Linked DNA regions of Homo sapiens. The protein of the gene in region 2 interacts with the protein of the main gene of each other region in a pairwise test. Each region holds a gene or a part of one and is shown on either strand. Other genes may lie near its edges.

The links.
Region 1: the proteins of QRICH1 (region 2) and PIERCE2 interact in binary tests that used the Homo sapiens proteins (3 or more experiments, as listed by UniProt).
Region 3: the proteins of QRICH1 (region 2) and NFYA interact in binary tests that used the Homo sapiens proteins (3 or more experiments, as listed by UniProt).
Region 4: the proteins of QRICH1 (region 2) and RBM17 interact in binary tests that used the Homo sapiens proteins (3 or more experiments, as listed by UniProt).

What each region holds. Positions count from the first base shown.
Region 1 is NC_000015.10:55,411,462-55,418,894, reverse strand, and holds the end of PIERCE2 (piercer of microtubule wall 2 protein), read right to left. Parts: intron 1,141-7,433; exon of another isoform or gene 861-1,140; coding exon of another isoform or gene 762-860; intron 673-761; coding exon 325-672; 3' UTR 97-324; downstream 1-96. UniProt on the Homo sapiens protein: Microtubule inner protein involved in the attachment of outer dynein arms (ODAs) to dynein-decorated doublet microtubules (DMTs) in cilia axoneme, which is required for motile cilia beating.
Region 2 is NC_000003.12:49,041,723-49,049,155, forward strand, and holds part of QRICH1 (transcriptional regulator QRICH1), read right to left. Parts: intron 5,525-7,433; coding exon 5,347-5,524; intron 4,858-5,346; coding exon 4,703-4,857; intron 2,783-4,702; coding exon 2,668-2,782; intron 1-2,667. UniProt on the Homo sapiens protein: Transcriptional regulator that acts as a mediator of the integrated stress response (ISR) through transcriptional control of protein homeostasis under conditions of ER stress.
Region 3 is NC_000006.12:41,075,572-41,083,004, forward strand, and holds part of NFYA (nuclear transcription factor Y subunit alpha), read left to right. Parts: exon of another isoform or gene 1-127; intron 128-3,457; 5' UTR 3,458-3,518; coding exon 3,519-3,593; intron 3,594-5,239; coding exon 5,240-5,326; intron 5,327-7,433. UniProt on the Homo sapiens protein: Component of the sequence-specific heterotrimeric transcription factor (NF-Y) which specifically recognizes a 5'-CCAAT-3' box motif found in the promoters of its target genes.
Region 4 is NC_000010.11:6,098,988-6,106,420, reverse strand, and holds part of RBM17 (splicing factor 45), read right to left. Parts: intron 5,151-7,433; coding exon 5,034-5,150; intron 1,491-5,033; coding exon 1,324-1,490; intron 281-1,323; coding exon 183-280; intron 1-182. UniProt on the Homo sapiens protein: Splice factor that binds to the single-stranded 3'AG at the exon/intron border and promotes its utilization in the second catalytic step. Involved in the regulation of alternative splicing and the utilization of cryptic splice sites.

The DNA.
Region 1 (7,433 bases), on a different chromosome or scaffold from region 2:
TAAATCAATTTTTTTTTCCTTACAGCTCCTGTGTTCCTTTGTCTTGATAAGTATACTCAATAGATAAGTAAATAAAATATGAAAGGCTTTTGAAGCTTTTGGATTACATGGACTAAAACACTTTCTACCTTTTATTTTGCTATTTTGAACATATTTTCATTTAAAAAGTCACTGTCATGTAGTTATCAGTTGAAATACTTTATTTAACTTATTTTAAAAATTGATTCAAAACTTTTTATCTTCTTTATTAGGTATTCTACCCTTAGATTTAACACTCATTTTTCCCGAGTATATTTTCTCTTCAATATACAAAGGAATATATTTTCATAGAGTGTGTTGAATATTAGGAAAATCAAGAGTTCTGGTTCTGTCAGGTGCAGTATTTAGAGTGTTATTTTGATAAAATCCAGTTGCTCTGATATGGCTTGAAAATACTTGCTCCTTTGGAGTATAATTGCAGGGGAAAAACTGTGGAATAGGTAGAAATTCACCATAATGACTTGAATTGGTTTTATACATAATCATTTGAGGTTTTGATAGTGAGGTGGCTGTCTGGAGTGTCTTTGGATCCAACATACATGAAAACACAGGATTGCCAGGGTTCACACAAGGAGGCAGTTGTTCAGATTTCATTTCTGTGTCTGAATTTGAAGGTGAAGTACTTTTCTTATCCTAAAAGATAAACACATAAAATCATTCTCCATTATAAAGTTCTGAAAAAAAAAAAATTTAATTCAGTCCCACCCACTTCCCTTTTTCAGGAATTCTGTTCTCTTGAGGGCATTGAATGTCAGGCCTCTGAGCCCAAGCTAAGCCATCATATCCCTAGTGACCTGCACGTATACATCCAGATGGCCTGAAGCAAGTGAAGAATCACAAAAGAAGTGAAAATGGCCGGTTCCTGCCTTAACTGATGACATTACCTTGTGAAATTCCTTCTCCTGGCTCAGAACCTCCCCCACTGAGCACCTTGTGACCCCTGCCCCTGCCCGCCACAGAATAACCCCCTTTGACTGTAATTTTCCATTACCTACCCAAATCCTATAAAACGGCCCCACCCCTATCTCCCTTCGCTGACTGTCTTTTCGGACTCAGCCCGCCTCCACCCAGGTGATTAAAAAGCTTTATTGCTCACACAAAGCCTGTTTGGTGGTCTCTTCTCTTGACGTTGAAGACTACCCTTAAAATCACATACACCTGTACACAGAGCAAAGTTGTCAAAAATATGCTAAGTTACCTTTTTAAACATTCTGTACTAGAACTATGAGAATTTATTTAAAAATCTGTAAATCATAGGGAAAAATCTGTAAAAGTCATAGTTAGAAGAGGAAGTACAGCTTGATTTTAGAGTGAGAAAGGAACAAGATAAACATCCAGGGTTAGCCTGGGTATGTGGGCAGCCATTAAATAACTAATTACATAGCTAACTGAATAATTACAATTGTGATAACTGCTATGAAGAAAAAAAAATACAAGATATTAATGAAGACAGAATGGGGGTTCTTATCTAGTGTTGGGGGTTAGGGAAAGCCATTCCACTGAAGTACCATTCAATCTAAGATTGACTATAAGGCAAGGAAGTAAAAGATAGAAGTGGGGACAAAGTATGGCAAAAGTCAAGTAAATTAGGGTGAAAATATCATGAGATCAGAATAGAGAGCCAGGGGTTAGATCTCTTAGGGTTTTGTTGACTGTGTTTAAAATCTGAATCTTTATTGTAAAAGCAATGAAAAACTATTGAAGGGTTTTAAGGAGAGGAGTGACATGAGGTAATATAATTCTAGTAAAATTACTTTGGCTGTTGTTAGGGCCTGTGTGAATGTGGTGAGGAGCTGCAGTAGTCCATGTGAGTAATGATGACAATATATAGTAGGTGGTAGCATGGAGATGGAGCAAATTTGTTTGTTTTGTTTTGTTTTGTGTGTTTGTTTTTTGAGACAGAGTCTCGCTCTGTCATCCAGGCTGGACTGCAATGGTGCAGTCTCGGCTTACTGCAACCTCCGCCTCCCGGGTTCAAGCAATTCTCCTGCCTCAGCCTCCCAACTAGCTGGGATTATGGGAGCTCACCACGACAACCAGCTAATTTTTTTTTATTTTTAGTAGAGACAGGGTTTCACCATGTTGGCCAGACTGGTCTCGAACTCCTGACCTCAGGTGATCCACCTACCTTGGCCTCACAAAGTGTTGGGATTACAGGTGTGAGCCACCGCGCCCAGCCTATGGAGCAAATTTGAAATATATTTTGGAAGTAGAATTCACAGGATCTCATGATTGATTGGAGGTGGGTGGTGAGGGAAAAGGACAGATCTAGGATAACTTCCAGGTTTCTGGACAAACACTTGGGCGGATGGTGGTGCCATTTACTACAATGTACTACAATGTAATATGTAAATTAAATATATATATGTAGTTTTATATATAGATGATACATAATTTTGGCACTGAAAAGCACTTTGCATTGATGATGGCTTGATAAATTAATATAACAAGTTTCGTCCAGGCGCAATGGCTCACACCTGTAAATCCCAGCACTTTGGGAGGCCAAGGTGGGCGGATCACGAGGTCAAGAGATTGAGACCATCCTGGACAACATGGTGAAACCCCGTCTCTACTAAAAATACAAAAATTAGCTGGTTGTGGTGGGATGTGCCTGTAGTCCCAGCTACTCGGGAGGCTGAGGCAGGAGAGGATCCCTTGGACCCATGAGGCAGAGGTTGCAGTGAGCCAAGATCACGCCACTGCACTCCAGCCTGGTGACAGAGCAAAAGACTCTATCTCTCTCTCTCTCTATATATATAACAATGTTTAAAAAAACCAACAAACTGCATGAAAAACTCTAAAAAATGTCATGACTGAATCCTGAAATTCTGATTGTGAATTCTATCCTAAGAAACTTTATTGTAGAAAAATTTAATTCACAGCATTACTTACAAAAGAACTGAAATGTGTACTGATTTAGATGGAAGTTAATTTTAATTCTAATGCTAATGCCAAAAATACTAAGGGAGAAGACCACCCCTCATATTGTCTTATGCCCAATTTCTGCCTCCAAAGAAAGAAGAGGTAAAAACTAAAAGGCAGAAATGAAATCCACAGGCAGACAGCCCGGCACTACACCCTGGGCCTGGTAGTTAAAGATCGACCCCTGACCTAATCGGTTATGTTATCTGTAGAATACAGACATTTTATGGAAAAGCATTGTGAAAATCCCTGTCCTGTTCGGTTCCATTCTAATTACTGGTGCATGCAGCCCCCAGTCACGTACCCGCTGCTTGCTCAATCGATCAGGACTCTCTCACGCGGACCCCCTTAGAGTTGTAAGCCCTTAAGAGGGACGGGAATTGCTCACTCAGGGAGCTAGGTTGTTGGAGACGGGATTCTTGCCGAATGGCCGAATAAAGCCCTTCCTTCCCTTCCCTCTTTTTTTTTTTTTTTTTTGAGACGAAGTTTCACTCTCGTCCCCCAGGCTGGAGTGCAATGGCAGGATCTCAGCTCACTGCAACCTCCGCCTTCCAGGTTCAAGCGATTGTCCTGCCTCAGCCTCCCGAGTAGATGGGATTACAGGCACCTGGCTAATTTTTGTATTTTTAGTGGAGACAGGGTTTCACCATGTTGGCCAGGCTGGTCTCCAACTCCTGACCTTAGGTGATCCACCTGCCTCGGCCTCCCAAAGTGCCGGGATTACAGGCGTGAGCCACCACGCCCGGCCAAGCCCTTCCTTCTTTAACTCGGTGTCTGAGGGGTTTTGTCTGCGGCTTGTCCTGCTACAATACTAATAGAAGTACTTGAAAATAGCTTATTTTCTTAAATAGTTAAGTTTCTTCTGCAACCTTACATTGATGTAAGATAAACGTTCACCCAGCCCTGGTATAATTATGTCAGAATAATTACAAACTGGGTATTCTCTAAAGTGCTGTTAGTATAAATAGACTTTTTGTTTAATAAATTTCACTTTGAGATGGTTCACCTATTAAAAGTTAATAGATGAACAATCAATGTTTTGTTTTTCTTTTTTTTGAGATGGAGTCTCACTCTGTTGCCCAGGCTGGAGTGTAGTGGCGCCATCTCGGCTCACTGCAACCTCCCCATCTTGGGTTCAAGCAATTCTCATGCCTCAGCCTCCCAAGCAGCTGGGATTACAGGCGTGCGCCACCATGCCCAGCTAATTTTTGTATTTTAGTAGAGATGGGGTTTCACCATGTTGGCCAGGCTGGCCTCGGACTTCTGACCTGAGGTGATCCACCCGCCTCAACCTCCAAAAATGATGGGATTACAGGCGTGAGCCACCATGCCCAGCTGGAAAATCTATTAAAAGTTAATGACTTCACTTACTAACTTTTTTGGAAGACTTACAATGACTAATCCTTTATAAATTTAATTTCATTTGCATTTCTAGTTGGGAAAATTACAAATATAAGAACATTTCTAGGCCGAGTGCGGTGGATCACCTGAGGTCAGGAGTCTGAGATCAGCCTGGCCAACATGGTGAAACCCTGCCTCTACTAAAAATACAAAAAATTAGCCAAGCGTGGTGGCACACACCTGTAATCCCAGCTACTCGGGAGGCTGAGGCAGGGGAATTGCTTCAACCCGGGAGGCCAAGGTTGCAGTGATCCGAGATTATGCCACTCACTGACTCCAGCCGGGGCAACAAGAGTGAAACTCTGTCTCAAAAAAAAAAAAAACAAAAAAAAACCAGGCCTGGCGCGGTGGCTCACGCTTGTAATCCCAGCACTTTGGGAAGCTGAGGCGGGCAGATCACAGGGTCAGGAGATCCAGACCATCCTGGCTAACGCGGTGAAACCCTGTCTCTACTAAAAATACAAAGAATTAGCCGGGCGTGGTGGCGGGCGCCTGTAGTCCCAGCTACTCGGGAGGCTGAGGCAGGAGAATGGCGTGAACCTGGGAGATGGAGCTTGCCTTGAGCCGAGATCCTGCCACTGCACTCCAGCCTGGGCGACAGAGCGAGACTCCGTCTCAAAAAAAAAAAAGCATTTCTCTATGTAATATCTTATATCTACTCATATTTTAAATGTACTTAGAGCTGAAAAATAAAAAAAGTCCTAATGAGTTGAAATGAAGCTGATTTAAAATGCTTTCCCCATAAAAACAGTCTTTTTTTTTTTTTTTTTTTGAAACGGAGTTTTGCTCTTGTTGCCCAGGCTGGAGTGCAATGGCGCGATCTTGGCTCACTGCAACCTCTGCCTCCCAGGTTCAAGCGATTCTCCTGCCTCAGCCTCCCGAGTAGCTGGGATTACAGGCATGTGCCACACCAGGCCCAGCTAATTTTGTATTTTTAGTAGAGACAGGGTTTCTCCATGTTGGTCAGGCTGGTCTCAAACTCCCGACCTCAAGTGATCTGCCTGCCTTGGCCTCCCAAAGTGCTGGGATTACAGGCGTGAGACACCACGGCCGGCCCTTAAAAACATTCTTAAAGGGCAGCTTTTAATTAACTGTTTTGGTGTGGAGAAGGGAGAAAGTTTTTCTCTGTCACTCAGGCTAGAGTGCAGTAGTGATCGTAGTTCACTGCAGCCTCAAACTCCTGGATTCCAGTGACCCTCCCAAGTAGCTAGGACTACATGCACACCACCATACCCAGCTAATTTTTATAATTTTTTTTTTTTTTTGAGACGGAGTCTCACTCTTTTGCCCAGGCCGGAGTGCAGTGGCGCGATCTTGGCTCACTGCAAGCTCCACCTCCTGGGTTTACGCCATTCTCCTGCCTCAGCCTCCCGAGTAGCTGGAACTACAGGCGCCAGCCACCGTGCCCGGCTAATTTTTTGTATTTTTAGTAGAGATGGGGTTTCACCGTGTTAGCCAGGATGGTCTCGATCTCCTGACCTCGTGATCCGCCCGCCTTGGCCTCCCAAAGTGCTGGGATTATAGGTGCGCACCACCGCGCCCAGCCTTAATTTTTATAATTTTTTTGTAGGGATGAGGTCTTGCTATGTTGCCCAGGCTGGTCTTGAACTCCTGGTCTCAAGCAATCCTCCTGCCTTGGCTTCCCACAGCACTGGGATTACAGGCATAAGCTACCATATCAATCCCCAGCTTTTAACTTAAAAGTACTATAAAACCATATTCAATCTACTCTTCATCAACTTTTTCTTTTTTTTGAGACAGAGATCTCACTTTGTTGCCCAGGCTGGAGTGCACTGGCTGTTCACAAATGGGATAATAGTGCACTGCAACCTGGAACTCCTGGGCTGAAGTGATCCTCAGGCCTTGGCTTCTCAAGGTGGGACTTCAGGTACATGCCACAGTGTCCAGCTTTCAGTCAATTATTAATGTTCTACCTGAATAGTGTCCCTACTAAAGTTTTTGAAAGTATTTTTCCATGAATAAGGGGACTGAAAATATGAATCAAATATAAAGCAATTTAAACTTGGACAAGTCACTTAGATTCTCTGTGCCTAAAATTTGTTTGTAAAACAGTGGAGCCTGGATTATTTGACCTCTCAGATCTCTTCTACCAACTCCACAGAATTTATTAACCTTATAAACTTGAGGCAGAATCACAGTGTAGTATACTATGTTTTCATGTTTTGCTTTATTTTAATGAGAATCATAAGCGAAAGAGGGCTGGATGTGATATATTGGAAGAGTAGCACAAGGCAGCAACTATGACCTAGGTTCTCATACTTTATCATTTCACCTTTATTTGTATATTATCTGTAAAACTGGTAAATAAAAATCTGCCATAGTTCCTATGGTTGTGGAGATTAAATGAAAGAAAATTTGATGTAAATGGTGAATCACTATATGAATGGGATCAATTTTTTTTTTTTTTTTTTTTTTTTTGTGGAGACAAAGTCTCACTCTGTTGCCCAGTCTGGAGTGCAATGGTGTGATCTTGGCTCACTGCAACCTCTGCCTCCTGGGTTCAAGCAATTCTCCTGCCTTAGCCTCCCAAATCGCTGGGCTTAAAGGCGTGCGCCACCACGCTCAGCTAAATTTATTTATTTTTTTTTGTGAGAAGGAGTTTTGCTCTTGTTGCCCAGGCTGGAGGGCAATGGTGCAATCTCAGCTCACCGCAACCTCCGCCTTCTGGGTTCAAGCCATTCTCCTGCCTCAGACTCCCGAGTAGCTGTGATTACAGGCATGCACCACCATGCCTGGCTAATTGTGTATTTTTAGTAGAGATGGGGTTTCTCCATGTTAGTCAGGTTGGTCTCGAACTCCCAACCTCAGGTGATCCGCCCGCCTCGGCCTCCCAAAGTGCTGGAATTACAAGCGTGAGCCACCGTGCCTAGCCTAATTTTTGTATTTTTAGTAGAGATGGGGTTTCACCATGATGGCCAGGCTGGTTTTGGACTCCTGACCTCAAGTGATCCACCTGCCTCGGCTTCCCAAAGTGTTGGGATTACAGGTGTGAGCCACTGCGCCTGGCCAAATGGAATCAATTTTTATCACTATTTTATTTTATTTTTTGA
Region 2 (7,433 bases):
CTGGTTCAAGCAATTCTCCTGCCTCAGCTTCCCGAGTAGCTGGGACTACAGGCACATGCCACCACGTCCAGCTAATTTTTTGTATTTAGTAGAGACGGGGTTTCACAGTGTTAGCCAGGATGGTCTCGATCTCCTGATATCATGATCTACCTGCCTCAGCCTCCCAAAGCTCTGGGATTATCTGGGATTACAGGTGTGAACCACAGCTCCCAGCCAATTTTTTGTATTTTTAGTAGAGACAACGTTTTATGTGTTGGCCAGGCTGGTGTCGGACTCCTGGTCTCAAGTGATCCACCTGCCTTGGTCTCCCAAAGTGCTGGGATTACAGGCGTGAGCCACCGCGCCCAGACTGTGTTTTTTTTTTTTTTTGGGCGGGGGGGCGGGGGTGGCACGGGGCAGACTCTTGCTCTTGTCGCCCAGGCTGGAGTGCAGTGGCACGATCTCAGCTCACTGCAAGCTCTGCCTCCCAGGTTCATGCCATTCTCCTGCCTCAGCCTCCCGAGTAGCTGGGACTGCAGGCACCCACCACCACAACCGGCTAATTTTTTTGTATTTTTTAGTAGAGACGGGGTTTCACCGTGTTAGCCAGGATGGTCTCGATCTCCCGACCTTGTGATCCACATGCCTCGGCCTCCCAAAGTGCTGGAATTATAGGCATGAACCACTGCACCCAGCCAAAGACACACAGGAATCTTAAAGGCATATTGCTAAATGAAAGGAACAAATCTGAAAAGGCCACATGCCGAATTATTCCAACTATATGACATTCTGGAAAAGGCAAAACTGTGAAGATAGTAAAAACATCAGTGGTTTTCAGGGTATCTGGGGGAGGGAGGGATAAACAGGTGAAAAGGTTTGTTTTTTTTTTTGAGACGGAGTCGCGCTCTGTCACCAGGCTGGAATGCAGTGGCGCAATCTTGGCTCACCACAACCTCCGACTCCCTGGTTCAAGCGATTCTCCTACCTCAGCCTCCCGTGTAGCTGGGATTACAGGTACCTGCCAACACACCTGGCTAATTTTTGTATTTTTAGTAGAGATGGGGTTTCACCATGTTAGCCAGGCTGGTCTTGAACTCCCAATATTCAGTGATCAGCCCATCTCTGCCTCCCAAAGTGCTGGGATTACAGGTGTGAGCCACCATGCCTGGCCCAGAAGAGGTATTTTTTAGGGCAGTAAACATTCTATATGACACCATGATGGTGACACATGTCATCATACATTCATCAAAACTCAGAATGTACAACAGATACAGAATGTAAACCAGAACGTACAACACAATAATATAGTTCATAGCACTATGAACTATAGTTAACAATAATGTATCAATATTGGTTTATCAATTATAACAAATGTACCATACTAACGCAACATGTTATTGATAGGAGAAACTGTGTGTGAGGGTATATACTTAAGGAGTTATATGGAAATTCTCTGTACTTACTGCTAAATTTTTCTGGAAACCTAAAAGTACTCTAAAACATAAAGTCTATTGGCTGGCCGTGGTGGCTCATGCCTGTAATCCCAGCATTTGGGAGGCCGAGGTGGGCGGATCACCTGAGGTCAGGAGTTCGAGACCACCATGACCAATATGATGAAACCCTGTCTCTAGTAAAAATACAAAAATTAGCCAGGCGTGGTGGCATGCTCCTGTAATCCCAGCTACTTGGGAGGCTGGGATAGGAGAATCACTTGAATCTGGGAGGTGGATGCTGCAGTGAGCCAAGATCACACCATTGCACTCCAGCCTGGGCAACAAGAGCAAAACTCTGTCTCAAAAAAAAAAAAAAAAAAAAAAAAAAAGTCTATTAAAAACAAAAATAGGCCAGGCACGGTGGTGGCTCACGCCTGTAATCCCAGCACTTTGGGAGGCCGAGGTGGGCAGATCACAAAGTCAGGAGTTTGAGACCAGCCTGGCCAATGTGGCAAAAGCCTGTCTCTACTAAAAATACAAAAATTAGCAGGGCATGATGGCACATGCCTGTAATCCCAGCTGCTCAGGAGGCTGAGGTAGGAGAATTGCCTGAATTGGGACCTGGGAGGCGGAGGCTGCAGTGAGCCAAGATCGTGCCACTGCACTCCACCCTGGGCTATAGAGTGAGACTCCGTTTCAAACAAAACAAAACAAAACAAAAATAGCTGAGCACAGTAGCGCATGCCTATAGCTCCAGCTACTCAGGAGGCTGAGGTAGGAGGATCGCTTGAGTTCAGGAGTTTGAGGCCCATCTCAGCAACATACCAAGACCATGTTTTTTTAAGAACAAACAAAGAAAAACACTGAATAACCTATGCTTTTGTTCCAATAGAACATGCTGTCCAGAAGGCTGCCTGTGAGTAAAGCAAAAATTATGCTCTACAGATAAAACTGTCCATAATCCTTAATTGTTATGATTCTAATTTTAATCAATACATTTTAATAGGAAAAAAAAGATAGTAACTACCCCACTAGTTCTGCTTGTTCCTGTGTCCTTCCCACACTGGAACCAGCAGGCTTCTCTGGTGAGCAGTGCCTCTTCCCTATCAGGGCAAGTAGCACAGTGGCCAATGCTGCTGCAGTCTGGGATTTATATCCCCCCTCACTCACATGCTTTTCATAGCCAACCACAGAAGCTATTGATCTTTCTTAAATCCAGGTAGGAAAGATATCCAAGGACAAGGGAGACTCTTACCAAGTGGAGTGACCCGGGGCTGAACATCCTTCAGAACTTCATGTAGCCACTCCGTGAACCGAACATAATAAAGATCGGAGAAAATGTCATCTACCCTTCCATTTTCAAAAAGATACTAAAAGAAAAACAATTAATAGAAGTTATTGGTAGTCTCCTGAACAAGGATTTCAGGGGAAATAAATATATTTTTCTACCAGTACTACTATCCTTCCCTACCCATTCACACCTCAACAAACCAAGGCACCAGCATGTGACACTTCCATAGTATGCCTAAGCTCATGTGACTGATTCTCATGACATTCTTGAGAGTTGGGTAAATAAGGCAGATGTTGTGAATGCTATTTCACCCAAGAAAGGCATTATTTTGTGTTAGCAAAAATCATGAATAGGCTCTGGGGTCAGCCTTCCATTAGATATTGTATAAGTTAAACAACATGTGCAAGTCTTTTAATTTCTGAGACTCAGTTTCCTTGCCTGTAAATGGAGATGATGGTATCTGCCTTCCAGGACTGGGAGAGCAAAGAATGAAAGCATGTAAAGCAATTCACATAGTACTTAGGTTAGGACCACCAAGAGAGGAAAAAACTAGGAGGCAGACATTTCTCAAGACTAGGCAACAGAATAAGTCCCAACCAGTAAGCCCTATTCTATTATACTGTGGGTTTCTCCTCAAGAGCCTTCAAACACTAAGAAATCCACCTCTGCTCCCTTGAACTGCCAGTCTGCAAATTTCTGTTATGCTTCACCACAGATGTCCTGAAAACCTAACTACATTGGTATATTATTCTAGCTAGACTCCTTCAAATAAGTAGTTAGTGCAGGGAACAATGAGAAGAAAACCTCTATGCTGGCACAAGACTCTGTTTTGAATAAATTACCTTCATGAAAATCAGGTTTAACAAAAAGAAAAGTGTTACATAAATGCTTTGTGAATTACAAAAAAAAAAAAAAAAAAAAAAAGTCAAGGTAATTACCAATAATGTAATAGAAGTTTAGGTAGTAGGATGAATAATGTTTGTTTTCCTATTTTATTATTTATTTTATGTATTTATTTTTTAAGAGGCAAGGTCTTGCTTTGTAGACCAGATTGAAGTGTGATGGCACAATCATAGCTGAATGCAGCCTCGCACTCCTGAGCTCAAGGGATCCTCCTGCCTCAGCCTCCCAAATAGCTGGGACTACAGGTGTGTGCCACCACACCCAGCTAATTTTTTTTCTTTTCGTTTTTCAGACAGGGTCTCACTCTGTCACCCAGGCTGGAGTGTAGTGACATAATCATGACTCACTACAGCCCCAACCTCTGGGGCTCAAGCAATCCTCCCACCTCAGCCTCCCAAGTAGCTGGGACTACAGGCATGCATTACCATACCCAGCTAATTTTTTGTAGAGATGGGGTTTCACTATGTTGCCTAGGCTGGTCTCAAACTCCTGGGGCTCAAGCGATCCTCCTGCCTTGAGCCTCCCAAAGTGCTGGGATTACAGGTGTGAGACATCTTGCCTGGCTCTTATTTTTTTTCTTTTCTTTTCTTTTTTTTTTAATTTTTGAGACAGAGTCTCGCTCTGTCACCCAGACTGGAGTAAAATGCTGTGATCTCAGCTCATTGCAACCTCTACCTCCCGGGTTCAAGCGATTCTCATGCCTCAGCCTCCCAAATAGCAGGGATTATAGGCAGTGCACCACCACACCTGGCAAATTTTTCTATTTTTAGTGGATGGGGTTTCACCATGTTGGCTGGGCTGGTCGTCTTCAACTCCTGACCTCAAGTGATCCACCTGCCTCGGCCTCCCAAAGCGCTGGGATTACAGGCGTGAGCCACCAGCGCCCGGCCCCGGCTGTTATTTTCTAAAGTGAACGTGTAGGTTTTTAAAACTTAAAAAAAAAAAAAAAACAACAAATGTGTATTTTAAAACTCACTGTATACCTGAAAGAGAACTTCCTTATTTTAACTTCTTGCTTATCAATTTATTAACTAAACTAGCAAACATCCAATAGGAACACAGCTCAAACATGTTCTTGTGAAGATCTGTTTCCTACCTTTTGAATACACAGGAAAATATAGTAGAGCACATCTGGGTCATAGGGTTCACCTTCTCCATTTCGAGCTTCCCGTGTCATTAGACAGAGCCCATAATTCAACTCTGCCACAGCAGAGGAGATGAGATCTTCCTGGAATCGCAGCAGTTGGCGCCCTGCAACGGAAGCCTCAAAAATGAATGAAGGTCCTGGGGGTCCATATCTGGAAGGCTCAGAACAGATACTGCCCATCAGGGTGCTGGGATAGAAATGCTCACTTGTATCTACTAGAATGTTTCATGCCTGTAATGTCAGAACTGGCCTATAACATGAGTATATGAGCCTAATGCCAAGAAAGAAGGGCTTGAGTGCCTATCCCTGGTTCCCATTTCCTCCCAGAAGCCACTCTGCTTAGGTCTGGTAGGGTCAACTCCTGAAACCCGTATGTCTAAAAATGCCTGGTTTTGGGCAAACCCCACATATCCTGCTTATTATGTACACAAGGTCAGTACTGCTTGTTACTAGGCTTGAATTCAACATACTATTACAGATGTTGCTCTCTTGTCCCCAAGACAGGAGACACCACTTTTCTGGCATTTTGTCCTCCTGTTACTTTAGTACCATTGCATTTTAGACACAGCCCACTCTTCTTCCAAGACACTCACTCCCAATGGGTGCCAATCTGTTCTGAGCATCCTTCTCTAGTTCAGCATTCTTGGTCTGGGCCCAGTTTTTCCATACTTCAAGCCCTTCTTCTGGCTTCAAAGAATTTGGAAGCAGAAGTTCTGGGGAAGGCTGTGGCTGTGACTGTGGTTCAACTTCAGCAACCTGGACAGTTTGAGCCTATAGGAGAGAAACCATGAAAATGTGTCAATATTGTTTTATATTAGATCCTTCTGCAAAATTGCCAGAAAAATGTTATGTATAGTTCATTTATTTAAGAAAATATTTCTCTACTCATTGCTGTCCTACTTTTAAGAAGCTTTGGAGTTCTACCTCTTGCCCCAGGGACAGCAAAAGCAGCACTGCAACTGGGCTAGTGCAGTGCTTCTCAGCCTTGGCTGCACTTTTAAATGTTTTTTTTTTTTTTTTTTTTTGAGACGGAGTTTTCCTCTTGTTGCTCAGGCTGGAGTGCAATGGCGCAATCTCAGCTCACTGCACCCTCCGCCTCCCGGGTTCAAGTGAGTCTCCTGTCTCAGCCTCCCGAGTACCTGGGTTTACAGGCATGCACCAACACGGCCAGCTAATTTTATAATTTTAGTCGAGACGGAGTTTCGCCATGTTGGTCAGGCTGGTCTTGAACTCCCAACCTCAGGTAATCTGCCCGCCTCAGTCTCCCAAAGTGCTGGGATTACAGGCGTGAACCACTGTGCCCGGTCAAATCTTTTATTTAAAAACACTAATAGCCAGACTTACCCCAGAATCTCTCTGAGGGGGAGCCAAGGTATCAATTGTTTAAAAACTCCTTGAGTAAGATTGCACCACTGCACTCCAGCCTGGTGATAGAGCGAGACTCTGTCTCGAAAAAAGAAAAAAGAAAAAACAAAACAAAACAAAAAAACTCCTCAAGTAAAAAAGTAATTCTAATGTTTGGTCACCACTGAGAACTACTGGCTCAAAGCACTGCTCCCACAGTCTTTAATGTGCAAACAAATCACTTGGGGATTTTATCAAAATGCATATTCTGATTGAAAAGGGTAGGAACTGAGACAACATTTCTTTCTTTCTTTTTTTTTTTTTTGGCGGGGAAAGAGTTTCGCTCTTGTTCTTGGATGCTGGAGTGCAATGGCAGGATCTCGGCTCACCTCAACCTCTGTCTCCCGGGTTCAAGCTATTCTCCTGCCTCAGCCTCCCAAGTAGCTAGGATTACAGGCATGTGCCACCACGCCCGGCTAATTTTGTATTTTTAGTAGAGATGGGGTTTCTCCATGTTGGTCAGGCTGGTCTTGACTCCCATCTTCAGGTGATCCGCCCTCCTCAGCCTCCCAAAGTGCTGGGACTACAGGCTTGGGCCATCGGCCGAGAGCACTGATTCTTAAACTGGGTCTCACCTTGAAATCATCTGGATTGCTTTAAAAAAAAAAAAAAAAAAAAACCCACCCTGGCCGGGTGCAGTGGCTCACACCTGTAGTCCCAGCACTTTGGGAGGCCGAGGTGGGTGGATCACGAGGTCAAGAGACTGAGACCATCCTGGCTAACACGGTGAAACCCCATCTCTACTAAAATACAAAAAAATCAGCCGGGTGTGGTGGCGGGCGCCTGTAGTCCCAGCTACTCAGGAGGCTGAGGCAGGAGAATGGCATGAATCCAGGAGGCGGAGCTTGCAGTGAGCCGAGATCGCACCACTGTACTCCAGCCTGGGTAACAGAGTGAGACTCTGTTCACAAAAAAAAAAACCAAAAAAAAAAAAAAAGAAAGAAACCTCACACTTGGGCCTTATCTCCAGCCATTGTAAGGTAGAGGCACATTGTCAGTATTTTTAAAAGCTTCCCATGTGATTTTTTTTTTTTCCCTCTGAGATGGAGTCTTGCTCTTTCGCCTAGGCTGGAGTGCAGTGGCACGATCTCGGCTCACTGCAACCTTCACCTCCCAGGTTCAAACGATTCTCCTTTCTCAGCCTCCCGAGTAGCTAGGATTACAGATATGCACCACCATGCCCAACTAATTTTTGTAGTTTTCGTAGAGACGGCTGTTATTGAACCATCTTGCTGGCTGGTATCGAACTCCTGACCTCGACTGATCTGCCCGCCTT
Region 3 (7,433 bases), on a different chromosome or scaffold from region 2:
TGTTCACATGCTGAAATATTTCTGTTCTTGTTTTTATGCTCTCTTGATTTGTAGTACTTCACCTTCCTCCACATCATCACATAGCTAAATCTTTCTCACACTTAAGACCAGTTCATCCTGCAGGCCTCTGATAGCAAAGAAAAAAAAAGTTCAAGTAGTACCTTTTTTTTTTTAAGCCTTGTTGATTTATCCCCAGCTGGAACAAATCTCTGTCCTCCAAATTCCCATATCACTTTATCTCTTAGGATTCCAGTATAGGTTTTTAGTCCATTACTAAACTTAAAGACTCTTTGAAGTTTGAATCTTCGTCAGAGATTTCTTTTTATTTTTAAAACCTTCAGAACAGTGTCTGGCACATGGTACATAATTAGTGGAGAGAAGTGCATTAGAAAGCTCCAATCCAGAAATCTGTAGGATGATGGGGAAGCTGGACAGCCCTTTGTTGTAGTCTAGTCTTTCATCAAGCGTCTATCAGGACCCACTTGTTGAGTTGTGAAAGAAATTGAGTGAGCCAATGCTGGGAATTTTTAAATAATAGAATAGAAAATATCTGCCAGGCATGATGATGGCTCACGACTGTAATCCCAGCACTTTGGGAAGCCGAAGTGGGAGAATCCTTTGAGCTCAGGAGTTTGAGACCAGCCTGGGTAGCATAGGGAGACCCCCTCTCTTAAAAGAAAAAAAAGAATAGAAAATACCAAAGTGCATCTTGTGTTGTATAAAGGTAAATGCTGTTTCATGAAACTTTCATTTCAGTTACATGCTTTATACATGTGTGCACTGAGTTGTGATAATGAAATGTGTTTCTTACTAAGGGTTGTGGTCAAAAAAGTTAAAAAGCTACTGTTCTAGGCTTTGCCTGGTAGTGATTATCAACTGTGATAATCCTATGGCTTTTCATATGCTTACACTAGTTGAGTTTCTGAAGAGGTTTTAGCTTTGGAGTTTGTGTAGGTCCACATAGAATGGGTTCCTAGTAAGTGGTTGGCTAAGTCTCAGCTTTTGCACCTTGGAATAGTGGGGCAAAGAGAATTGCACTGAGAAGAGAATGCACTAGGAAGAGAATTTTCATGCTAGCCAGAATAAACACTTATTATTTGTTTCTCTCTCTTTGAGGAAAAACCATTCAAAACTTTGTGTTAAGAGCAAGAGCTAGACAGACTAAATCTGGCTTAGTTTGTCATAATCTTGGGCAAAGAGGCACTTTGGGAAAGACTATCGAATTGTATTGCAGTCTTGCTAACTGAAGCTCACAGTAGTAGGAACATATGACTTTACTGAAGCCAGTTGCTTATAGCATTAACCATTAACAGTATCAATATCATGATACAGGCTAAATCACTCTGTCATTAATGTGAGAGAGAATTGCTGCTAGATTTGAAGCTGCTCTTCAAATCTTGATACTCTTCAAAGTATAAATTTAAATATTGCTAAATTGGTTCATTTGTATTACCAGAATAAACTAGTTAAGAAGAAAATCTGTACGTTACATATATTAGTCATTATGTGCTTCAAGTTATATTTAGTCTTGTAAAGATGTAAACTTCTGGATATTAGTCAAGGAAAAAATCTCATATAAGAAGGAAATTTGGAGTTGGGGAGGCGTTGAAACCTAAAAGACATTCCTTTCATGATCCTTATTTTTTAAAATCAATTTATTGAGAGATACTTTAGAAACAAAGTATAATAATTTTAAATGTGTATTTTGATGAGTTTTGACAAATTTGTACACCTGTGCAACTGCTACCACAATGAAGATATAAAACATTTTCATCACCCTACAATGTTCCTAAGGCTCCATGCCAGTCAACCTCCCTCTTTCCTGTCTCCCTGTATTCTCCACTCCCAAGGAACCACTGATCCATTTTCTGTCTCTAGATTACTGATGTCTTTTGGAGATTTTATATAAATGGAATCATATATATTCGTTTACATCATAACCTTAATTTTATTAGTTTATAGCCATAAATGTATTGTGTATTAGAGACAAGATAGAATTTAGGGAAGCCTGTTAGTGCCCCTAACAGACTCACAGTCTGGCTGAAAACCTGATTTTCTATTCTATACCCAGAATCTCTGAGGAGCAGACTTAGTCAACCAATTCCAAAGAGACTGGTGTAAAAATCAGAAAACCGGTTTGTCATGTTGCTGATTATATTTGCTCCCTGTTGGCCAATCTATATGTAAATCCAAATTATAGCTAGAAATTTACCTAGCGAGCATTCCATTAGATCAAGGGCAGTGCTTTGGAGAACCATATGGCCACAAGTCCTCTTGCTGTGATGACATAGCCTGTTATTTATGGCTCATAGATTCTTATGTTGTATCCATTTTGGTTATGAGTAATGGGGTTGATTAATTTTTATTTTGATTAAATTTTGTTATATTTTTCCTAACATTCCAACATTCATTTGGGAAATAAGAATTTCTCAAAATTCTTATTCTAGAAATAAGAATTTTCAAGTGTGCAGTGAAATCAAAGGAATTTGAAAATAAACACCTGTATACCTGCCAGTTAGGGTCTATTAACATCTTACTATAATTGCCTTACCAGATATTTCTCCACCCATTCATCCATTTTTTGATGCATTTCAAAGTAAATTTTAGATATCAATACACTTCTTTCTAAGTACTTGGACATATAGTTGCACATATTTTGGTTTCTTCTTTCACACTGTATTGAGACACCTTGCAAATGATTAATTCCACCAGCATGTGTGGATTTATGGAGAGTGGTACTGTACTTTGCCACGATAATGAGCAGCTCAGTTAGGTCACGTCATTTTATTATTCAGATGTTGGAATTTATGAGGGCCTAGTGAAAAATCAGAGAGAAAGACCTATCTACATTTTTGTTTATATATCTGTCCTCCCTCCCATATTTCCAAGATGAATTGCCGATTGCTAACTTATATCATTTTAATTTTTTAATGAAGTCTTTATTAAAGGTTCTCAGATATCATTCAGTTTATCTAATTGTATCCTTATTTTTAAAAGTGGATCTTCAACTCTTAAAGTCTATGAGAAGGGTAAATTTTGCCTACCATATGTAGTGGACCTGAGTAACATGTTTGGTGGGAAGCAATTACGTGTTACAACTTAAAGAAGCTTTATTCTCTAAAGTATATGTGCAAACCTGAAAATCAGTGTTAGGTATGCCTTGTATCAAAGTGATGTAGCTTAACGAGTATCTCTTAGGTGCAAGTATTGCTCTGACAGTATTGAAAGGTAAGGTTGCCAGTATACTGAAAGCATTTTAGAAACGTGAAAATAGCATTATGTTGTTATGATTGTGCCATGTAATCCCAGTTAAAAATGATACTGAATATAAGCATTTCCTATTCTCCTATCCTGTTTTCTTGCAAATAAAGTACAGTGATAAATTATCCAGGTTAATTGTCTGGTAAGGCCTTTATTGACAATCTCACTTTAGTTTCTTTCCCCACCTTTCTAACAGGAGTGTACCTCACAGCCTTCTAGGATCTCCAGAGTGGACAGGAATCTCACTTGGAGGGACCATGGAGCAGTATACAGCAAACAGCAATAGTTCGACAGAGCAGATTGTTGTCCAGGCAGGACAGATTCAGCAGCAGGTATGGAAGCAAAACTGCTTTAAACATTACAGCAATGAAACTGATAACAGCACCACTCAATTGGTTGGTCTATTGCCCTGGGGAATTATTTGAAAGATACCAGATCTTGTGAGATATTGGGTCTGATGGCTTGTGCTGAAATGCCATGTCTAGCCCATGACCACTTAGAATCTACTCTTCATGGGTGCCTGGTTATAGTAAATTGCCTCTTTTATCTCATTTTAAGTAAAAACATCTAGTCTGGTTTTCAGATGGAAATTTGGACTTTAAAATTTTTCTGGATTCTATTTGGTCTTTTTCTCTTCTTGTTTGAGCTAACTTGTGATTTAGTAAGTCTTTGGCCACAACAGACAAACCAACATAGCTTCCAATAAATCTTCTGTTTTTTGATTTGGTCTGCCACATTTTTTATTCAGAAAAGCTCTGGTTTAACATTAGGATAATATTTAGACAGCCATTCTTATGGATAAGACATACTAGAAAGGAATTCCCTGCTGCTGGTTTATTCCTAATTAATAGATTGCTTTCTTGAATTTATACACAGGTTACATTTTCTGATGCTTTATGCTTGGGTTTATTATAGTAAAATTTCACTTTTTTCCCCACCCCAGAAGAAAAAAATGTATTATGTTTCTATTTGACCTTAGGCCAAGATTGATATTTTGGAAATACTTTGTTTTCAAAATGGAATTTAGCTAATATAGAAAAGTAGTAGGGAAGGGAAAGGTAGTATTGATGATGAGTTTTTCCCGTCTAATGATCAAAGACGAACTCCCCTGATAGCTTTCCCTTCCATACAGCTGCTGTGGCTCTGGCAGTTTCCTTCAACTGCCTTTTTAGAGGAAGGGATTCCACAAAGGGCCCTCCATTCACACCAGTGCCCTGGAGGGTGGGTTTTTATTCTTTCAGAATTTGCCATTAGTGGATGTAAAAATAAGGTTGAATCATTGAAAACATGGCTCTTAAAGCAGTCCAGTTGGGTAGAAATAATCTTAGTTTTGAAGCTGGGCATGGTGCTGCATGCCTGTAATCCCAGCTACTCTGGAGGCTGAGACAGGAAGGTTGGCTTAAGCCCAGGAATTCAAGACCAGCCTGGGCAAAACAGCAAGACCCCATCTCAAAATAAGTACATAAATAAAGTTTAAAAAAAAAAGAATCTTAGTTTTGGGACATGAGAGCATTGACGTCATGAAGATGATTTCGGTTCATAGTGATTAATTACTCCTCCTTTCTTGGTGATTGCATTTAAGCCCAGAATTTTTTATGGTAGTTTCAGGGCTATTAAAACCTAATCATTTTTTTCTTGTGAACTCATCTGAGGAGATAAAAAGGGCATTAAACAATTGTGTAAGTAGAAGTGTCAGATTCCTGTTTCTGGAGGGAAAGATTGCATTACAAATCTTTGTGTTAATGATGACAACTGTTTTGAGTTTTTGAGTCAAATTTTTGAGGTCCACTCTGGAGACAAAGGGCTAATATCTTTAATCCTACTACCTTCAACAAAACAGCTTCAATATAGGGAGTCTGTACATTTTGAAAGTCCTTCAGGCTTCCGTCTCTCTCCTCCAAGAGGTAAGGTGATCTGTGTCTTGAACTACACATTTCCTTCCTGACATATTTCAAGCTCTTCCTGTTCCTGTTCTCAGCAGCAGGGTGGTGTCACTGCTGTGCAGTTGCAGACTGAGGCCCAGGTGGCATCCGCCTCAGGCCAGCAAGTCCAGACCCTCCAGGTAGTGGTACCCTCTCTGATTCTCTGTGAGCACTGCATGAACTTCTCCTCTCCTCATGTCTGGTGCTGTTTGTGTTAGGATCTCCAGTAGGAATGGCAAAGTCAGTTGCATGTCTTTGATGCTGCTAACTTGTCTTTGAGGCTTATAAGATGCCAGTTTCCTAATATTTCATGCCAAGTCATATAGAGACCCCGTATCAACTTTCTGAGAATTGGATTTGACTAGCATGTTTCTTTGAGAATGCCTGGAAAAGAAATGGTATAAGTGACAGGAAGAAATTCTTATAAGTGACATTAGAATTTATTCAGGGCTCGGCCGGGCGCGGTGGCTCACGCCTGTAATCCCAGCACTTTGGGAGGCCGAGGCAGGCGGATCACGAGGTCAGGAGATCGAGACCATCCTGGCAAACATGGTGAAACCCTGTCTCTACTAAAAATACAAAAAAATTAGCCGGGCATGGTGGCGGGCACCTGTAGTCCCAGCTACTTGGGAGGCTGGAGCAGGAGAATGGCGTGAACCCAGGAGGCAGAGCTTGCAGTGAGCAGAGATTGCGCCACTGCACTCCAGCCTGGGTGACAGAGCGAGACTCCGTCTCAAAAAAAAAAAAAAGAATTTATTCAGGGCTCACACTCTGATCCAATTAATTGCATGGTAAAAATTTTGTGTATTTGTGTTACAATGGAGAAGGAAATATATACATATACAGACACACATAAACTAGGCTAGGCTGTGCTTTATTTTTATTCAAGGGGCAACTCAACTGAAAAATAATCATTGCACTTGGCAAGGTTTATCTAAGCACTGAATCTTGTTAATCTCTTGTTAACTGCTATTGTTTCCACTACCTTTCCTGGGGGAATAGTGACCTGTCTTATTACTAGATCTGCAAAGATTACCCCAGATACCTCTTGGTTAGGCAGAAGCAGGATGTGCTTTCTGTAAGTCTTAGGTGTTAAAGCCACTGTGATAATTCTTGGTTAATCAATACAGTTCTTTAGCATCGTGTATGGCTAAGTATCCTAAATTGGGTTCTAATTTGGCCAGTTCCTATAAAACACAGGAGTAGCAGCACTAGTCTACTCTGTGTATGTAGGTTACTTTTATTAAAATAACTCTATTTTTGAGAAATTGGCAAGATTTGGGTACCCTACTTTTTCCCTCCATTGAATTAGAAATGATTCAAAGTAGAATCTAGAATGTAGAACTGGCATCTCACTTTATTGCTAGTGCTGCTAAGCATCCAGCAGATAACTACCTCTTATTGTCATCACTTTATCCTTTCAATCCCACCCCTACCCCTGCCACCAATAGTGTTTGGTAATGATGTACAGCCAACTTTGAACATAAATTAAGCCGAAAGAAACTGAGCTTGTAGGCATTCCAAAATTGTGTTCAAATCTCACAGTCCAACAGCTTGTTAATGTTTTTCATGCTTGCTTCATCTTACTCATATATAAAACAGTATTTTGGATTGTCATTAACCCCTTGTGGAATAGGAATGTAACATGCTCTTAACTGTATGGCTTCTTGTTTGATGCATGTGTCTTTGTAACATTTTTCTGTTGTAAATACAGTGAGCTCTTTGGAGTCTCAAATCATTTATCATGTGCACGAATAGCACATCAATTGGGGAGGAAATTAAGATGATGAATAGATAGAAAATTATTAATAGCTGTATCTTAAAACTTGTGTTTCCTACTTACATAGATTTTATTTAAAAGAAGTGGAAACACTTTATGGAAATAATAGAAACCTTTCCTCTAGGGATCTGATTATTTTGGGAGAATTTTAAATAGTTATTTTGGTTATTCTTGCTATATGTATTCTGAGAAATCTTTCTTGATACAGAATATGCAAGCATTTGGTGTAGCAAAGGGGATTTGATTTGGAATGGGGAAATAAGGGAAAGAGATAGCATGAGAGAGTCAGGCTGTAAAGTCCTTAAAAAAGTAAAGTAAAGGTTCTCAATGGACAGTTTAACAAAACTTAGGATTTCAATGTTCCTGGTGATTCTAATACATTAGTGGTGGTGGCAGTGGCGGCGGTGGTGGTGGTGATTGTAGGAGGACCTTACTATCTAACCTACTCATCTAGGACAGAATGATCTGTT
Region 4 (7,433 bases), on a different chromosome or scaffold from region 2:
ACATATGAAAACCCAATATAAATTAAAACTGTGACGCAAATGTGTATTGCTGGGATTCCAGAAAGAAAATTACCCAAATCAATGTCAAATGAACTATTTATCAAACTGAAAAGAAAAAGCACATAGTGGAATTGCACTTCCAGTATTTATATATGTTTAAGACATATTTGTTCATGCCTTACTTCTTTTCCTCCTCTCTCGCTCATAATCTTCATCTTCATCAGAATCTGGATCTGGTCTCCTTGCAAACCCACTTGCTTCATGTCTGTCTTTACGCCTTCTGTGATAACAAAGGAAATAAATGTTCATCACAGATGAACCAATTTAGAGACCTGAACCTGGGATGACTTCCTCTTGACCAGAAGATATCCAAATCCTGTCACAATCAACTATGAAGTTGCAGGGGTAGAGGGGGTAGGAAGCATAACTGGTAAAAGACTAAAGTAGATAAAAGTATGAAAAGTGAGAAAAATTCAAGAGATAAATTGAACCAATAAGTATACGAGAGCAACCAGCATGAAAAAAAAGGTTCCTTGACATTGACCTCTTCCAATGTTAAAGCCTATCAACATAGTAATAGTTCAATCATTTCAATAGTCTATAACACTTTCACTCATGAAATGATTCAATAAATGGGAAACAGTATATTAATATTTAATACATGTTAACTATTTGATAATACTAAATATTTTTAAAAAGAACTACAAATACATCCTACTACTCGTACTTTGCAAAAACATAAATAAAAGCTGCATATGAATTTTTAAAAATTCCACCTGGCTCAAAAATAGTAAAGTTAAGAAGAATATTTCAAGTACTTTAAATAGCTGTGATTTTACAAGTTGAGAATCCCTTATTCCAAATGCCTGGGACCAGAAGTGTTTCAAATTTTGGAATATTTGCATTACAATTACCAGTTCAGCATCCCTAAGCCAAAATCCCCCAATGCACATTTCCTTTGAGCGGCATGTTGGCATTCAAAAGATTTTGGAGCATTTCAGATTTCGGATTTTTGAATAAGGGATAGTCAACCTATAGCAGAGTATCAGCATAGAAAAAAATTTTCAACATCAGGTTTATAAGTTATTTTTCTAACAACTCACTCAAAATATACACTTTAGGTCTTCAGTCTACAGGTGAAGTTTGCTGTGATTCTGAGATGTAACAGGTACAAATCGTAAAACAGTTTGATTCCTTGTAGTGACTGCTCAGATCACCCATGACAATTAACTTCAGCCTTACAGACAGCAGCGACGCTCATTCGTTAACATTTTAATGAACATTTCAACTGTAAAATATCCCCAAATCCAAAGGAAGCCTTACTTTTCCCTTTCTTCTATTTCCTTTTGTCTTTCCAGCTCCCGCTGTCTCTGTCGTTCCTCTCTTTGGCGCTTCACTACTTTCTCATAATCATTAGGAAACATAGGGTCATATTCGTCAGCTAAGGGAATCAGAACTTCCCCTGCAGAAAACCCACTGGGAACAGGATCCTGAGGAAGGTAAAAACAGCAGTAAGAATCCTCTTTATATCTTACCAGTTTACTCACAGGATTCAGGTCAAAGCGTATGGGAGATAAAAGGACTCTGAACATCATCTAGCCCCTTCCTCTGTTTTAAAGACAAAGAAAACAAATACCAGACAAGGCCACGTGCCTAGTCAGGTGGTAGCAGAAACAGGACACAAAATTTCACCTCTTAGATTAGTACTATTTCTATAATACTCTATGGCATTTTTCCTGGAATTCCTAAATAAGCCACCACCAGCTAAAATATAAGTTACTAGTACTTTGAGTCAAAAAATTAGAATACTTATAGTAAAGCACTGAATACTTGTTTTTATAGATCTCTATGACAACTTAAAAAATAAAACAACCATGAACACCACAATCATTCTTGCAGTCATCATTTTAACAGAATAACTTCAGATTCTGATTACATGGAGATAAGAATATATGGAGATCTTAGAAAGCATCTTCTTGGTCTTTCTAATCCTCTGAACACATGTCCCTTCCCAGGTAGGCTGCATTTCAGGCACTGAGTTTGACACAAGGGGATGTAATGTCCCTTCCAGCATCATAATTTTTTTTAAGGTTCACTAAAATCAGGTTTAGATAACACTTCGTGTTTTCTCGTCTATACATTCAGAAACTTGGTCTACTCTTTGAAAGAAAAGAGGTAGCCATGACAAAGAAATTAGCAAAACGAGAGGCAGAGCACAGCCAGTATACTAGGAAATACATGAGCAGACACAGAACTTTACCCTAGGCTGGCAGCCTCGGTCTACACGTGGTGCTGGAAGCCCTGACCCCACTTTCCTAAACCTTCCCACACTTTCTCCTGTTAGTGTTCTTAGCATAATTCTTCGTTATTATCTGTAACAATAAGATGCCTTCTCTGGTTTTGAAAGACACCTCAAACAAGCACAGGTTAGGATTAGTGTCCCCATTTTTTTTAAAACACACATGCAAAACAACAAGGATTCATGTCCTTGAGCGCCCAGTCTGTACCTCTTACAGGAGGTACAATGTCCAACTGTATCAAAGGCAAGAAGGTCGTTTGTAAACGTGTTTCCTGCTTGAACACAGAACTGACAAAATCAAGACAGCTTACACGCCATATTAACAGACCTAAATCGAACAGTTCCTGTGTTTCATGGTTCGGTGTGACATTTTGCACTATAAAACAAACACTTCACCATTTCCTTACGACGAAATATCAGGAAATGCTATGATCCAATGAATAAGAGCAATTAGGAAAATAACTATAATCACCTCCCAGGCCCTACCCACTGGAAAATGTATTTAATGTAGGGCTCCTAAAGGTTAGTTATACATTTGTATTCATTTTATAAAAGACATTTAAAAAATACAAAAGCACATGAAGATTTCTTTTCAGTTATTATTTAGAGAGAAAATGACAACCAGCCACTCAATTTATCTAACACAATTATCACAACGTGTCTAAGAGAACAAACTGTCAATATGAAGGTTCATTCTCTGACACTTCAAAATTTCAAAGAAAAAAACTTTTACATATAAACCCTGCTATGCTTAACAATGAAATCAATCATCCTTTTCTAAATGCTGCAATGAATAAAGTGATTTGTTCAATTTAAAAAAATTAAAATGTTAATACCCTCAATGCTGAGGGGGGAGGATGGGGTAAAATTCACCCTCATATGCCTGAGGTGATACTGTGCACTGCTGGGAGTAAACTGGTGCCAGAACAGATTGGCCATAAAAATGGCTGATATCTTAATGCCACCTCAGAAAATCTAAGAAAATAACCCTAATTACATAGAAACATCTCTGTAAAGATGTTCATTAGAGGGCCGGGTGCAGTGGCTCATGCCTGTAATCTCAGCAATTTCGGAGGCCAAGGCATGTGGATCGTTTGAGCTCAGGAGTTCAAAACTAGCCTGGGCAACATGGTGAAACCTCATCTCTACAAAAAATTAGTCAAATGTGGTGGCATATGCCTGTGGTCCTAACTACTCAGTAGACTGAGGTGGAAGGATCGCTTGAGCCCAGGAGGAGGAGGCTGCAGTGAGCCAAGATTGCACCACTGCTCTCCAGCGTGGTGACAGAGCAAGACCCTGTCTCAAAAATAAAAACCACAAAAAGATGTTCATTAGAGTGGTATTTATAAAGGCAATGTAAAAGCAAATCTAGGTGGTTTTACAGTTAGGGAATACTTGTGTAAATTATGATGCATTCGCTTAATGAGAATTAAAAACTGATCGTGAAAACTATGTAACAAGGAGGAAAAAGGCTTACTCATTAAATAGGAGACTAATATTATAGGTACTAGAACCAATACACGATTACAGAAGAAACTATGAACCAGTTTTTAAATTAGATGTAGCAGGAATAAACTAGGTATCAAATTTATGGGGGAAAATGCTCAATGACTAGGAATCAGCAAAAAAACACCTCCACCATGTGGTGCTTCCCCTCCAGAAGAACTACCAGCCCTCAGGAACAGCACCCGCTCCCCTCAGAAAAGGACAACTCAAGGGTAAGCTGCAGCCACAGACTGGCCCAGAACATAAGCAGGACAGGCAGGAGACGGAGCCCAACCCAGAACAGTGACGTGAAACAGATGGGCAGGAGTGTGCCCTTTGCCCCAGCCTGATGCAGCCCTTCCCACAGGTGGTGGGGAGGACAGGCGCGCCTTGCTAAGAAACTGTCTCGATAGCACTATTATTAATCTTTTGGTCATTTTTCATCAAGCGGTTTTGTGCAATTCATGATGCTGTTTAAATGACCACAGTCATTATTTGAACGCCATCTGTGGAAAGATAAATGTATACTTAAATTGTGGGTATAATTTTAACTAGTTTATTCACTCATTTTACCTCATTTTGTCTAGTTTTAACTATGATTTTGAGTTATCCTTTTCCAGATCTTCTTCATCCTCAATAACCCAATTTATAGAGTTGACCACATGTTTGTTTTTAAGCATATGTAAAATCACTGGAATCATACAGGTTAGGGTGGTAGAAGTGGGTTTTAAAACCCCTTTCTCTGTTTTAATCCACAATAAATCAGTAAGTACTAACACTGTTTATGATAGCAAAAAATAGAAACAACCCATATATCCAGCATTAAAGGAATTAAATTATAGTCCATCTATATACAAGGGAATATAGTGAAGCCATAAACGTGATCATACAGTCCTGTATTTTTTGACAGAGTCACAACGTATTAAGTAAGAAAAGCAAGTTAGCAGAAGGTGGAGTAGGCACAGGATGGAAAAATATTACGTTTTTCACTTCCGGATTGTATGACTGAAGGTAATTTGTTTTTCTTTCTGCGTATCTCTAGTTTCTGATTTTTCTACAACAAACTATTTAATTTCAAATAGATACATTTTAAAATTGGCAAAACAGAAGTAAAAATTAGGTGGAAAATGATACTAACTTGGTTTCAAAGGCCCACCAAGGAGGCCATCTGTTAAGAGTAACTCATATGCAAAATAAGCCACATGGGAACAGAGACACGTATCAAGCTCACAGGCAGGCGCGGGCTTACCTTCAGCCCAGCTGCTACATGCGGTGGAGTGTCCACAATTTGCCGGTCATCTGAGGAGCCACCTCGCTTCAGGTCAATGACTGGGGCGAGGACTGTACTTTGTTTCGTCCTTTGGCTCTAAAATCATCAAAAACAAGGAAAACATACTGAAGTTTCAAATTAAAATTCACACTGTTTGCAACAAAGATTTTCTTTCTGGTCCCTGCAACAAACCTTTGAGATATGAGAAAACCATAATCTCAAAACAACAGCCTTTTAATTTATTACTATAATCATATATTATTTTCTTTCAGCTTTTTCAAAAACATGAGATTTTCTCCATTTCTGTGAAAGGTTTACAGTAAACTTAGTCACTTTCAAAAGATACTTGGGGATAAGAGTTTTGTTCCCTCCTACTAGGATATAGAATCCTTCCTATCTCCTTTATTATGAATCTACAAAAAAAAGTTTTTAAAAGAAAATCATTTCTATACATTCAATTATTGTTAATGTTCTACCATACTTCTTGCCCTTACACCTGTATTTTTTGCTAGACCATTTGAAAGAAAGTTGGAGACATCATGACACTTCACCCCAATCTCCTGAAACCGTGGACATTCTCCTGTCAGATTACTACCCCTAATAAAATCACTAATTCCCATGTCATTTCCCATCCAGTTCACATTCAGATTCTCCAAGATATCCCAAAAATGTCCTTTAAACAGCTGATTTTTTTTTTGAACCAGGATCCTACCAAAGTTCCTGAAATGCTTTTGGTTTTTAAGTGTCTTGATTAAGAACAGTCCCTCTTCCCCATCATCATCATCACCATCATCTTCATCTCCTCTTCCTTTTTTTCCTCTGACACTATCTTGTAAAATGCTGTTTGTTCTAGATCTGTCTAATAACTACCTGGTTATTTAGTTGAGCTTGTTCCTCTATGCCTTGTAATTCCTGAAACCTGGAGGTTAAAGGCCTGATCGAATTCAGGGTAAAGCTTTTAGGCAGGAACACTTCCCAGGTGAGGCAGTGTGCCCCTTCCTGCAACACACAGCAGGCACACTGCGTCAGGCCGTCTAACAGCAATGCTAAGGTTGATCATATGGGTATGGTGGTAACCATTAGATCTTTTGATTAGAAAGGTTTAATTTTTCTCTTTTGCAATTTAAAGTGTTACAAATTTTCATTACCACTATAAAAGGCACAAAATAAGCCTTCATCTCTCTTGAATATAACAATACTTATAAATTTAAGCAAACAAAATTTAATCCAATTAACAACTCACAAAGTAAATACGAAAGTTTACAGAACGGAAGGGGGATTTATTAGAATCACATATTTTCTTTCTTTCTTTTTTTTTGAGATGGAGTCTTGCTCTGTCACCAGGCTGGAGTTCGATCTCGGCTCACTGCAACCTCCGCCTCCCAGGTTGAAGCAACTCTCCTGTCTCAGCCTCCAGAGTAGCTGGGATTACAGATGCACGCCACCACACCGGGCTAATATTTGTATTTTTATTAGAGATAAGGTTTCACCATGTTGGTCAGGCTGGTCTCAAACTCCTGACCTCAGGTGATCCACCCGCCTTGGCCTCCCAAAGTGCTGGGATTACAGGTGTGAGCCACCACGCCCAGCCAGAATCACATATTTTCTATTATTATTATTTTCTATTCAATATAGAGTTGGCCCTCTGTATCTACAGGTTCCACATCTAACCCCAGGCTGAAAATATTAAGAAAATAAAACAATACAACAAAAAATACAAATAAAAAAACCAATACGGTATAACAACTTTTTACACAGCATTTACATTGTGTTAGGTATTGCAAGCAATCCACAGATGATTTAAAATATGGGAGGATGTGTGTTAGTTACGTGCAAATACCACACCATTTTATATAAGGGACTTGGGCACGCTTGGATTTTGGTATGGGCAGGGGGGTCCTGGAACCAATCCCCTGTGGACACCAAGAAACAACTGTATTTTTTCAAATGGAGATACAAATGAAACCACAGCTTCAAATTTTCTCTACCAAATAAATACCTTTACAGGTTTGGCTAGGCCAATCTAGTATTCTGAGTAACTAAACAGCCTAAGAGAATGCAATCTTCACTTCCCTTAAAAAAAAAAACCCACAAAACTAACTGTACATAGCAATCTCAAAAGTTTTATAAAGTTAGTAGAAATAACTTCACAAGCTACCTCAAGTTTTAAAAATCTATATGAGGCCGGGCACGGTGGCTCACACCTGCATCTTCCCTGCAAAGCAAAAGTTACATGAAATCTACAAAGATTTTATAAATGTACTTTTAAAAAAAATTAAAGAGAAAAACGAGGTTTTGCTAACCCTCCTTACATTTGGAATGAAACCTTGTTTTAAAAAAAACACAAAATACTGGCATCCAAAAAATCTAAATTTGGTA